2 linked regions of the Homo sapiens genome follow. The protein of the gene in region 1 interacts with the protein of each later gene in a biochemical or structural test. Each region holds a gene or a part of one and is shown on either strand. Other genes may lie near its edges.

What was found. The genes of interacting proteins can lie anywhere in the genome.
Region 2: the proteins of HBS1L (region 1) and EXOSC7 form a complex in vitro, tested with the Homo sapiens proteins (one study listed by BioGRID).

What each region holds. Positions count from the first base shown.
Region 1 is NC_000006.12:134,960,819-134,967,851, reverse strand, and holds part of HBS1L (HBS1-like protein), read left to right. Parts: intron 1-1,378; coding exon 1,379-1,523; exon of another isoform or gene 1,524-1,526; intron 1,527-2,561; coding exon 2,562-2,573; 3' UTR 2,574-7,033. UniProt on the Homo sapiens protein: GTPase component of the Pelota-HBS1L complex, a complex that recognizes stalled ribosomes and triggers the No-Go Decay (NGD) pathway.
Region 2 is NC_000003.12:45,007,244-45,012,004, forward strand, and holds the end of EXOSC7 (exosome complex component RRP42), read left to right. Parts: intron 1-176; coding exon 177-332; intron 333-3,991; coding exon 3,992-4,096; 3' UTR 4,097-4,228; downstream 4,229-4,761. UniProt on the Homo sapiens protein: Non-catalytic component of the RNA exosome complex which has 3'->5' exoribonuclease activity and participates in a multitude of cellular RNA processing and degradation events.

The sequences.
Region 1 (7,033 bases):
TTGTGAATGCTTTCACATAATGTATATTCTTAGCAATCCTGTGAAGCATCTAGCAAGTGACACAAAGCTCAAGTGGTAGAGGCAGGATTCTAACCTAGTCAGTTGGTTTACATAAATTATATTCTTTTGTTCAGGAGCCAGGTTGTTTGACCTAGACAACTGATACAGAATTTTCAGTCTGAAATTGGCTCATCATATATAATCCTGAGTCTTCCCCTCCATGCTCCTGCTACAAAATCCTAGCTCAATGATGGTAGAGTTTAACATATTCTCGTGTTTGTGTTCCCTGTCATCTTATTTGTAGCTTTATCCTTTTATTTTGCACAACCGTTTGGCCTTTCCCTTTCATTCCTGTTCAGGCACGTTGTAGGCTCTTGATTGCTTTATGCAGAATGGAATTTAATGTTCTAGAAACTAAATTAGGAACAAGCCATTTATGTATTAGATGCTCTCCTTCCTAAGGAATGAACTTAAGCCTGAAATTGTCCAAAACCAATATTTGGAATTTTTGGTGTATTTTTTTAGAACCTTCTTTTAGTCGTCTGCCCCTGAACTTATCTTTCAAAAGGAGAGTTTATGATTTCTGTCCACTATACTTCTAGAGTACATAAAAATTAAATTAGAAAACAATTCCAAAATGTCCCTTTTTAGGTTCTGCCTCTCTCACTAAGTCTGAGCAGGGCCTAGCCTAGAGATTTTTGTTCACTTATTTTTATGAAATCATTTACAGTCTGGTCCATGCCCTGTCTTCCTTCATATTTTACAAGTATCATATTGTGGAAAAGCTACTTATGTGATTTTTGTCCTGAACTCCTGCTAAGGAACTATTATTCCTGTGTGGGGAAAGAGAGAGATTGCTTGATTGATTGAGGGGAATCTTAGCAACAACAGATTGATTGTCCTCTTCACAGATAACTTCCTAATACACATTCCATAAATTACAGTTTTACTAGGAAAGACATAGGGCATTATATTCCTCTTTGCAAATACTTTTTTATAGAAATAAGCCTTAGTATAACTTTCTTTATTAGATAATTGAACTCACTTTCTTGAGGGAATGAAAGAAAAAGCATTTATTTCATGATGAGGGGCCTTAAGCATTTTAGGCTATAGTGGTCCCGTAAGGGATAGAGTTATATTTGGAAGATTGGTAAAAATGAACTACCTAATGTTTCTTAAATCTAGAATTACTCCTCATTTCTTTCAACTAAAGCAGAAAGTCCAAAGACATATATTTTCATTCAAAAAATATTTTTCTTGTTTTTGAAAGACTCAGTTGATATGTTGGTTAAATGTGAAATATTTGTTTTTCAAGTTGTTATTATTACATTTATTCACCTCTATCATATATTCATTTGTTCTTTTTTTTTCTTAATAGGTTTTTGACTAAAGGCCAGAATGCATTGGTAGAGCTACAGACACAAAGACCAATAGCTCTTGAGCTATATAAAGACTTTAAAGAGCTGGGGAGGTTCATGCTACGTTACGGTGGTTCTACAATAGCTGCTGGTGTTGTCACTGAGGTATTTTATTTTAAAGTGACTCATTATATATCCATAGTTATGATGCCTTTTCTTTTTTACCTTTTAGGAATGAAAAGAAAGCATTGAGGGAATGAAAGAAAAAGCATTGATTAGGAGAAGCCTTACTCATTTTAGGTTGTAGTGGTCCTTTAAGGGATAGGGTTATATTTGGAAGATTGGTAAAATCTTCAGTGAGATTTTATGCCTTAAAGGAAACACAGTTATGCTACTAGAACAAGAAATTAGAATTTATATTAAATTCTAATTGCTGGAGAAAACAGCCAGAAATGAACCAGAAAATTTCAATGATTTAATTTCTTCTACACTATCATAATTAATATGAATCTTATGAATATTGTATTTTAAAGGGTACTTCATTACTCCACATGATTGTTTTCTGCCTAAAACTAGTTTATTTAATTGGATATAACATAAACTTTAAGTTGCATCAAAAGTGAGTTACACATATCATGAAAAATCTTTCTTTTAAGTTGCTAAAGCACCAAGAAACTCTATATACATAATTTAAGTAAAATACATATGGAAGGCGGTGTGGGGTGGAGGTGAAGAAAACAGCTTTCAGAGTTACACTGCCCATTTGTGTTCTTGCTCCACCAGTTTTTAGCGGCATAAATGCATTTCTCCTTCAATTTACCTCCTTCAGTGTAAAAATAGGATAATAGAATCTACCTCCTAGAGTTGTGTTGAAATGAAATGATAACGTGCAAAGCACTCAGCACATAAAAAGCATCCAATATTGGTAGCTGATATCGTTGCCATCAATATCACATTTAATCTATCAAGGCATTCTTTCTAAAAGAGCATTCTAAAAATAAGATAGAGTCATTTGTGGAGAATAATGGAGAGATTATAGTAAATTGCAGAAATGGCATGACTAGGAAAGGAAGAAAGTTGCAGGACAAAGAAAAAGATTTTCTCTTGATATAATAATTCTTTCACCATAATTTTCCCTTTGTTGTTCTTATAATGTGATTGATTAAATTACAGCAAATGTCTTTTTTTTTTTTGTTTTAACAGATAAAAGAATGATGGGTCAGAATTTCTACCACGTTTCTGGATACAGTGAAATAGCTAACCTCTGTTTCAAGAATGCAGTTATTAAGTCAAAGGAACAATGTGCAATTGATATGTTTTTAGATGAGAGAGAAAAATTAAAGCTAAAATTAGCTGCAAAGAAGTATTAATAATCACCTCTGCAAAAATTCTAAGTTGCCAACTGGCAAAGAAAGTCTAATGTTAAAAACAACTTTGCCTTTGAAACGTTAATAAATGGATTTACTTTGCTAAGATTTATGGCAAGTGTCAAAAATAGTATCTGAAGATACTGAATCATCATGAAATGAACTCTACTTCTGGCCAAAGCACAATGTATTTGCAGTTTTCTCTTTTGATTCAATTATACTGCACATGTTTTAAGGAAAAGTAACTTAATTGGGTTTTTCAGGCAGTTGATATTTGACCTAAGCTTTTTTTTTTTTTTTTTTTCCAGTTAATGCTAAGAAAAGATTTGGGGAAGGTTATAATAAAAGTATTTTGTGGTGACCATAAGAATGTCCCTCCCCAAACAAGTAAACTTGTGAAAGTTTAATTTGGAATTAGTGGAAGCTGTTCCTTTGAAAGCCAAGATATTATTTAAGTTGTAAAGCCAGCTAATAAAATGCCTTAGTTTGAGCATAATACAAACTGTGTTTTGTTCTTTAGACATTTATGAGATTCTCTGCCACTAACAGTAAATATGATTTAGGGGTTTTGTGGGATCTTTTTCACCTAAGAGTTTCCTAGCTCTGTCACATGAATTCTTTTTTATCCTAATGGCAGATCCAATTTCATCTCATTCATTTTTTTAACCATAACTTGCTTTTCCCATTCTCACTTTTAGAATTATACCTATGATGGCCCTTTCTTTATCTTGCTTACCTTATAGATTATAAGTCCCCTGTGAGTAAGTAAGAGTCATGTTTTTCTTTAAAGTTTCAACAACAAACCCCAAGGTTTATTTATTTAACAACAGGTATTCGTTGAGGTGCCTTCTGGGTGCAAGGAGCTTTAGAGTAGATTTTGACCTCAGCTGAACCTGGAACTCTGATCTGATAGACTGTTTATGATAAGCTTTTTTTTTTATTAGCAGCGTGATTTGTATATCGATGGCTTAACATATACAACAGCATTTCTTCTCCCTGCACCTTTTCGTGAACCTGACATTTTGAACATAAGCAATAACATCTGTATGGTAAAGTAGGCAGATTATACATGTGTTGCTTAGTGAATGATTACCAAGTGAACACACTTGGTATATTGCTTTACCAAAATACATGTGTAGTTGTCACTTCAGATTCACTGAGTTAAGAAAGTTTTATTTAAATATTAATATTAATCAAGAATTTAACAGATATATGTGACAGAAATCTAACTTCAAGTGACTGAAGCAGAAAGAAAAATTTTTGAATGACATAACTGAGAAAATTAGAGGTAGCTCTAGCTTTGATTCCATTTAGATCGAGCAGCTCACACAATGTTAGCAAGGACTCATCTCCACTCTGCCTTCCCTGGTGCTGGTTTTGCTCTCAAACTCTATATAGAACTCTCGGCCGGGCGCGGTGGCTCACACCTGTAATCAAAACACTTTGGGAGGCTGAGTCGGGAGGATAGCGTGAGCCCAGGAGTTTGAGACCAGCTAAGGCAATATAGTGAGACCATGTCTCTACAGAAAAAATTTAAAAACAGATCAGCTGGGTGTGGTGCCACATGCCTGTAGTCCCAGCTTCTCAGGAGGCTGGGGTGGGAAGATCACTTGAGCCCAGGAGGTCGAGGCTGCAGTGAGCCATGATCACATCACTGCAGTCCAGCCTGGGTGACAGAGCAAGACCTGTCACCCTGCCACCCATAAAAAACCTCTTCTGTAATGCCAGGTTCTTGACAAGATGTGATAATTCCACACTTACATCCTCAGATCTCCCATCCAGGGCAAGGACAGACTAAAAGAGCATATCTTCTCCAGAAGTCCTAGAAACATCTCATCATTGACTATGATTGAATTTTATTTATTAATACTTCCCTAGGATATCCTGTGTTTGAGTGTGAAGTTAATATCACACAAAGCATGTAGCTAACAGTTGTGTGAGGGTTGGAAATTCAGGGTGCTGTTAGGAAGGGGAAATGGATTGGGGTTTAAGGTAGGGGGAGTAAAAACAAGAAACCATCCACTCTGTATATTATATAAGACTGTGATCGAATTAAGAATTTTAGTTTACAGTTTAGCATAAACAAATAGTAGTAGAAATGAATGCATTTATTCATTCCTTCCTTCTCCAATAGTGTTTAAGTACAATCTTTTTATTTGCATTTTATTGATGATTGATTGTGGTTGAAAGGAGTGGTGATATTATTTCGAGGATCCACTGTGTAAGAAGACTGTTGGCAGTGGAAGGCTCGAGTTGATTAAGTGACAAAGAGGTAAAGCAGACATGCCCAAGCTTGGTTATGCTCTGATTTCCTACCCTGTTACTTTCATCCATAATTTATAGTACATCCATTTTGTGTCATTTTGCTTCAGGTATTTCTTGTCCTGACTGTCTTCTTTTTTATGATTTTACTGTTTCTTCACACTAATGGCTTTGTCCTCTGACTTTGACTCTTTGTGAGATTCTTCTGAGCAGTTAACCTCTAGGATAATGTGGCTTGAACACATTACAGAACTATGTTTTGACTTGTTAGTATTATTCACACATTCATGACAATTGAGCCTCTCTACTGTGAGAAATGTTTTAGAGGCCAGTTTCTAGGCATAGCTGTTTTTCTCCCATGAGTATGCAAATCAATAGTTTTAACCATTGTTAAAATGCAATCATAGTGACTTCAGAAAATTTGGAAAATACAGAAAATATAGGGAAGAATAAAATTAACCCACAGTTCTGTCACCTAAAGGTAACTGCTGCCAATGTTTTCATGTATTTCTTTTCTGTCTCTCCAATGCATTTTTTTACATAGTTGTGAGCGTTAGCCAAGTTATTTTCATGTTGTTATGTAATCAATATTTTTCAATAGAAGTATTAGAGGTTTTTTTTATTGATATAAAAATAACAATTACAGATCCTGATATATAGAAGTTATTCAAAATTATACAGTTTTCAAAAAATCAAGACAAGTAGGCCCAATACAAACTACTGAATCATCTTCTAATTTCCCTCTAAAATATTTATAGAAATATGTAAGTAGAAAAACATTCATCCTTTCCTCGTCTAATTATGATCCTGCCATATTCCAGGCACAAGAGAAAGCTCTGGGGCTTGAGTCTTAATAGGGCTGATAGTCCAACCAGGGGACAGGGTATCATAAAGAGATAATTCAAAACTTTAAGATTGGAGGGTAGGTGATGGTAGAAAATTCTGCGGCAAACATTTGTTGATGCTCATCATTTGTTGATGTCATCAAAGATCACCAGGGCATAATTATAATCAAAATTAGTTTTATTGATGCTTGCTGCAGCAAGAGAGACTGCACACCACTGGGGTCTATGGGTGCTTCTCAGTGGGAAGGTGTAAGGAGGGGCTTGCTAAGAATTTGAGCACATGTAGCTAATTTTAAGGAGGGCTCAAGTGAGCAAGGGTTTCTTCTGGATTGAGTGCTGTCAGAAAGTGGATTGAGTGCTGTCAGAAAGTGGGAGTGATTTTGCAACTGGGTATCTTAATTTTTATGTTGTGGGTGGGAGGAAAGGAAAGAAGCAACAGTCACCCATGTTAGCCACAAGAAGAGGTTGGCTGTTTATGGTTTGCACAGTGACTTTGTTTTTATCTGTGCTCAGGCATGATTACAGTATCTCATTTTATCCGGATTACAGTGACCTCATCTGATGTTAGAGATTTGAGAATTGTTAAATGTTCAGCAGGAGAACGCCACCGCCTAGTGTGAATGCTAGGTCAGAAGCTGCTTTTTCACACTGAAACCATTTAAGTATGTACAAATAAGTTAATAGTGTAAATGTAGGTGTAAAATACAATGCAAAACAAAATAATGAAGTAAGTGAATTAAATTATTGCACCAAATATGGGGATATGAAATAGGGAAAGAAAAGCATTAAGTTACTTATAGTCCATAAAGGGACTACATTATTTTGTTACTCTGATAATCCCATAAAACAAAGTTTTAAGAATGTTTACAGTAACCATGAATGGAATTAGTGAAACTATTCATATCAATGCAAAAAAAAAAAAAAAAAAAGCAAAGAAACTAAGTCTGTACAGCAAAAGATGGAAAGGAAACAAGAAAATTAAATGAAGACAAAGGTTGTGATTATTACAGTAAATGAAAATAGGTTTTTATCTTTAAAATGTAGACTCAAACTGCAAAGCTAATGATATGCTATCTGCAAAATATTCCTATTTTGTAAATAAATAAAACCATAGATTTAAAGAAGAAAGGGCACAGATGTACTGGGGAGACAAAAATAACTGATCCGTTGGGTGTATACCATGTGCCAAGCAATTTTCATA
Region 2 (4,761 bases), on another chromosome or scaffold:
GAGAATTGTTGAACAATCCCTCAGCTGTTTTCCTCGTGAGCAGAATCTAAAATAAGACCTGGAATGACCAGTGCAAATACTTTTGCCTGGTGTAGAGATTCCCACCACGAGGCCATCAGGGGTGGGACTCTGGGGCCTGCGTGACCCACCGTGTGCCACGCACCCTGCCTTTGCAGATTGGCTATCGGCATGTGGTGGATGCTACTCTTCAGGAGGAGGCCTGCTCGCTGGCCAGCTTGCTGGTGTCGGTGACCAGCAAGGGAGTTGTGACGTGCATGAGGAAAGTGGGGAAGGGCAGCCTGGACCCAGAGAGCATCTTCGAGATGATGGAGGTGAGGCCTTAGTTCTGAGGAAGGTGCAGGGACCTGGCCGGGGTGCCTGCTGCTTCCTGCTCCCTTGGTCATACCGTGGGGATTCTCCCCATTCACAGCCTTGACCCCAAACTTGGAGATTTGGGAACAGCTGGTTTGAGCCAGGGGTCTGCTGACCTAATCAAGGGGGGTTGTGGGGGTGGATACTCTGGACTGGGAGGTAAGGAGCCTACCAGTAACCATTAATTGTCCTCAGTAAGTACCCCCCATCTCATTTCTATGTGTCTAAATAAGACTGTTGGACTTTCATAATGTAAAGAGCCACTCGTAACTCCAAAAGTGCAGGCCTTTGTGACTTGATGAGGGAATAGAATTCTTGGCTCACTGCTTCCTGTCCCTAGAAGTGGGTGAGTAAAGGTGGAAGCACGGGCTGAACTGTGGCTGTCTCCCAAATTCGTTACAGCTCTAGAAGTGTTTAAATGGAGACAAGCAGGGATGGTAAGAAATCTGACCCACTGGAGTTGGGTTGGGTTGCCCTCATCCCTAGCAGAGCCATCAAGGCGCTTCTACAGTTCTCTGTACTGTTTGCCCCACATGTCTGTCACCTCACTGGCCTGGAAGCCCCGCAGGGCAGGGACAGGGTCCTGCTCACCTGTTTCCCAGACCTTCTTTCCCCTATATCCACCTCACCTTTCTGACTGATTGACTGACTGAACTTCCAGGAACAGAGTTAGCAGGATCTGATTATTCATACTTTCTTGCAACCTCTATATCACCACACATGCCCAGAGATCATTGCTTAATAGCAAGCACTCTTCTTTTGTGTTTAGAAACAATGACTTCATACTGAAGAATCCAAGAACATGACATCTACTTTCTCTCTTTATCATGTTATTTAAAAGGCCAAAATGAGCACTGTATATAGCATGGAGTTCCCAACCATGGGCTGTGAGGGTGTACTGCCCTGGCTGCAAACCTGGCTCTGGGCCATAGTCCCCCTCATCTGCAAAGTGGGACTGATAATAGTAATATCTGCCCAGACACTGCTGAGGTTGTTATTAGGATGATGTGAGGTGTAGAGGAGAAGCACATGTCACAGTGCCTGATATGTCATCAGTTCTCAGCTAATGGCAGCTCTTATTCTCTGTGCTCCATGAAGCACCCTGAGTTCAAATTTCTCCAGACTTAATGCTGCATAAATTCTACCAAAGTCCTCTAGGCAAGGGACTGTCAAACCTTGTTTTAGAAGGTACTCTTCCCCCTCCCAGGAGAGTTTATGAGAATTTCTTTAAACAGCAACAACAAGCACAGTAAACAAATAGCTGGAGTTTATTGTGTGCGTACTATGTGCCAGATACTGTTTTCACTGCTTTAAATATATCATTTAGTCCTCAACAACCTGTGAGGTAACTATTATTATTGTCCTCATTTTTACAGATGAGGAAACTGAGGCACACAGAGGATAAGCAGCTTGCCTACAGGCCTCCCTGCTCATAAATACTGGAGCTAGGATTTAAGCCAAGACTGTGTGCGTCCAGAGCCCCTGCTCCCAGCCACTGTGCAATGTCAGCCTTATAAACCAGATCTGCCCTGGCTGTCATAGATGGCAGAACCAGAGCTCTGTTCAGTGAGCTGAGCTTTGTCCTCCCCTCAGGTTTGGGGAGTGAGGTCTGCTAACTCTGGACAGGGGACTATAGCTCTGTGGCCCTGTCTTACTGTTTATCTCACACAGGGATGCAGCAATCTGGAAAATGACTTGGTGGAGCTGAGAGCCTTGGGGGTAGTTGTGCAGGCTGCCACCCCTAGCCTCTGCAGTTGCTTTCCTGCATCTGGATTCAGAGGCGTCAAGGCCCTCTCAAGTCCTGGCATCCTGTCCATCTCATCTCCTCTTGTTGTCCTCTCTCCCCACCCTCATGTATATGAATAATCAGTACCCCTGTTTGACAGATTCAGACTTTTTTTTCTTTTTCTAATGTTATGGGAAAATCTTTCCAAAGGCCCTTTTTTTTTTTGAGATGGAGTCTCACACTATCGCCCAGGCTGGAGTGCAGTGGTGCGATCTCAGCTCACTGCAACCTCCGCCTCCCTGGTTCAAGTGATTCTGCCTCAGCTTCCCGAGTAGCTGGGATTGCAGGTGCCCGCCACCACTCCCAGTTAATTTTTTTGTATTTTTAGTAGAGACGGGGTTTCAGTATGTTTGCCAGGCTGGTCTTGAACTCCTGACCTTGTGATCTGCCTGCCTCAGCCTCCCAAAGTGTTGAGATTACAGGCATCAGCCACCACATCCAGCCCCCGAAGGCCTTTTTGACCTTTAACCCTGACTTTGCATTTCATAGAGGTGATCACTTCCCAGCCTTTTAGATCGAAATCATCTTTTCATAAGAGTTTTAGTCATACTTGGGATCTCATCCCATGTTACAGTTAGGGGCCAGGGGAGAAGACACACAAGTCATTACTCTGGGGAGGATACACCTGTAACTGAAGAGATTGAGGCAGGGATTTAGGCATGGATGTTTTTATCTCAACATTGTTGAGAATGGAACCAGTGGCAGAGTTGAATCCACACTGCTATGGGAATGTGAAAGACCTGATAAGGTAGAGATTTGTGGTTGGTTCTTTGTATTCTTAAAATGATTCTTGGGCCCAGAGACAGAATAACAGTTTCATAAAGAAAAATATATTTTTTTATATTGGGGTGGTGGTTGTTTTTTGAGACAGGGTCTTGCTCTGTTATCCAGGCTGGAGTACAGTGGCACAGTCACAGCTCACTGCAGCCGTGAACTCCTGGGCTCAAACAATCCTCCCATCTCAGCCCCCTGAGTAGCTGGGTCTACAGGCGCATACCACCATGCACAGCTAATTTTTAGTTTTTTGTAGAGATGGGGTTTCACTCTGTTGCCCAGTCTGGTCTTGATCTCCTGGCCTCAAGCAAAATCCTCTTGCCTTGGCCTCCAAAAGTGCTGGGATTACAAGCATGAGCCACTACTCCCAGCCATATTGAGTTTTTTTGTTTTGTTTTGTTTTTGTTTTTGTTTTTTTTACCTCTCGTGTCTGCTCTGTAGGGACTGATTATTAATTTTGTGGGTTGTCCCTCTTGATGTGTTTCGATTCTAACATTTCACTGCCTTTAGCATCTCAGCATGGCAGTAAACACCAAAGATCCCATCCAGGTACTGACTTTGGTCACACCTGAGCAGTTCTGCTTAGAGGCTTCATGGGAGGTGAATGAGAAGCTGCTTACTAAAATGTCCTTGGCATCATCTGTTTCTTCTCCAGACAGACTCTGGATTCCCTGTGGTCTCCCTATAGTACAGTGTCACCTGGCTGTACCCAAGCCCAGATTTGATTGACAACTTTGTTGCTTGTTGCAGTGGCAGCAGGATAGTGAAGCATGAGCTAATGGCCAGGGCAGGCTTTGCTGCTCTCTGTTTGTTGCCTGGTGGGGGCTGGTGTTTGTCTCTCTTTTTTATTTTTTTGATATGACGATTTTTACAAAATTTATTATGTTGTTGGGGTCTGTGGTTTTTGTTTTAATTTGCTTTAATTAAATAAAAGTCCTCTAAGGCAGATGGAATGTGTACAATGTCAGAAAGACTAGCTGGCAGAAAGGAATGCTTTTCTGGTCAGAGTGTGTGTGCCTTACAAGGGGGTGTGTGCTCTCTCCCGTCCCTTCTCCACAGACTGGCAAGCGTGTGGGCAAGGTACTGCATGCCTCCTTGCAGAGTGTTGTGCACAAGGAAGAAAGCCTGGGGCCCAAGAGACAGAAAGTTGGATTCCTGGGATGATTTGCACATCAACTGCTCAACTGTGGATTGTTTTTTACTTTTCCTTTTAAACCGGTTCGTATATATTTTTCTTCGCTGTTACGAATTTACAGCAGCATTTGTACATGTAAAATTAAAGGCTATTTTCTGGTCTGGTTTGGTATGTCTAGAGTTCTTCAGTTGAAGCCAAGGCACCATTCAGTGACCCATCTGGGTCTGGCCCTTATCTAGTGAGTGGCAGACAAATCCAGAGCTCTGCCACCAAGGGAGACCCCCACAAGCTGGAGTAAAGACCTGACAGAAACTGGTTTACAGGAAATGCTTATGATATGTATTTTGTGAATTTTTTTCCCCTTGAAGAACTTTAAAAATAAGAATCACAAAGAAAAGTTCATTCACCTTGTGTATTTGGGTGGTTCTGGGAGAGGAAAAAAGAGGAGGCACTCTGCTGCAGGTACACACCCAGGGCGTCTGTCTGTCTGGTTAGCCATCCCAAATCCTGGGAAAGTCCAGCTCTGACTTCCTGCCCTCCAAGAGATCCGAATGGAATTCCCTAGGTTCAGGGGCTTTAGTGGCAGCCACTTTGGCCCTTAGCCATCCTTTCTTATCACTCTTGTTTTGAAATTGCTTTGTGTTTTATAACCACTCCCTGGTGTTTCCTAAGATTTTGTTTTGTCAGCATTAAG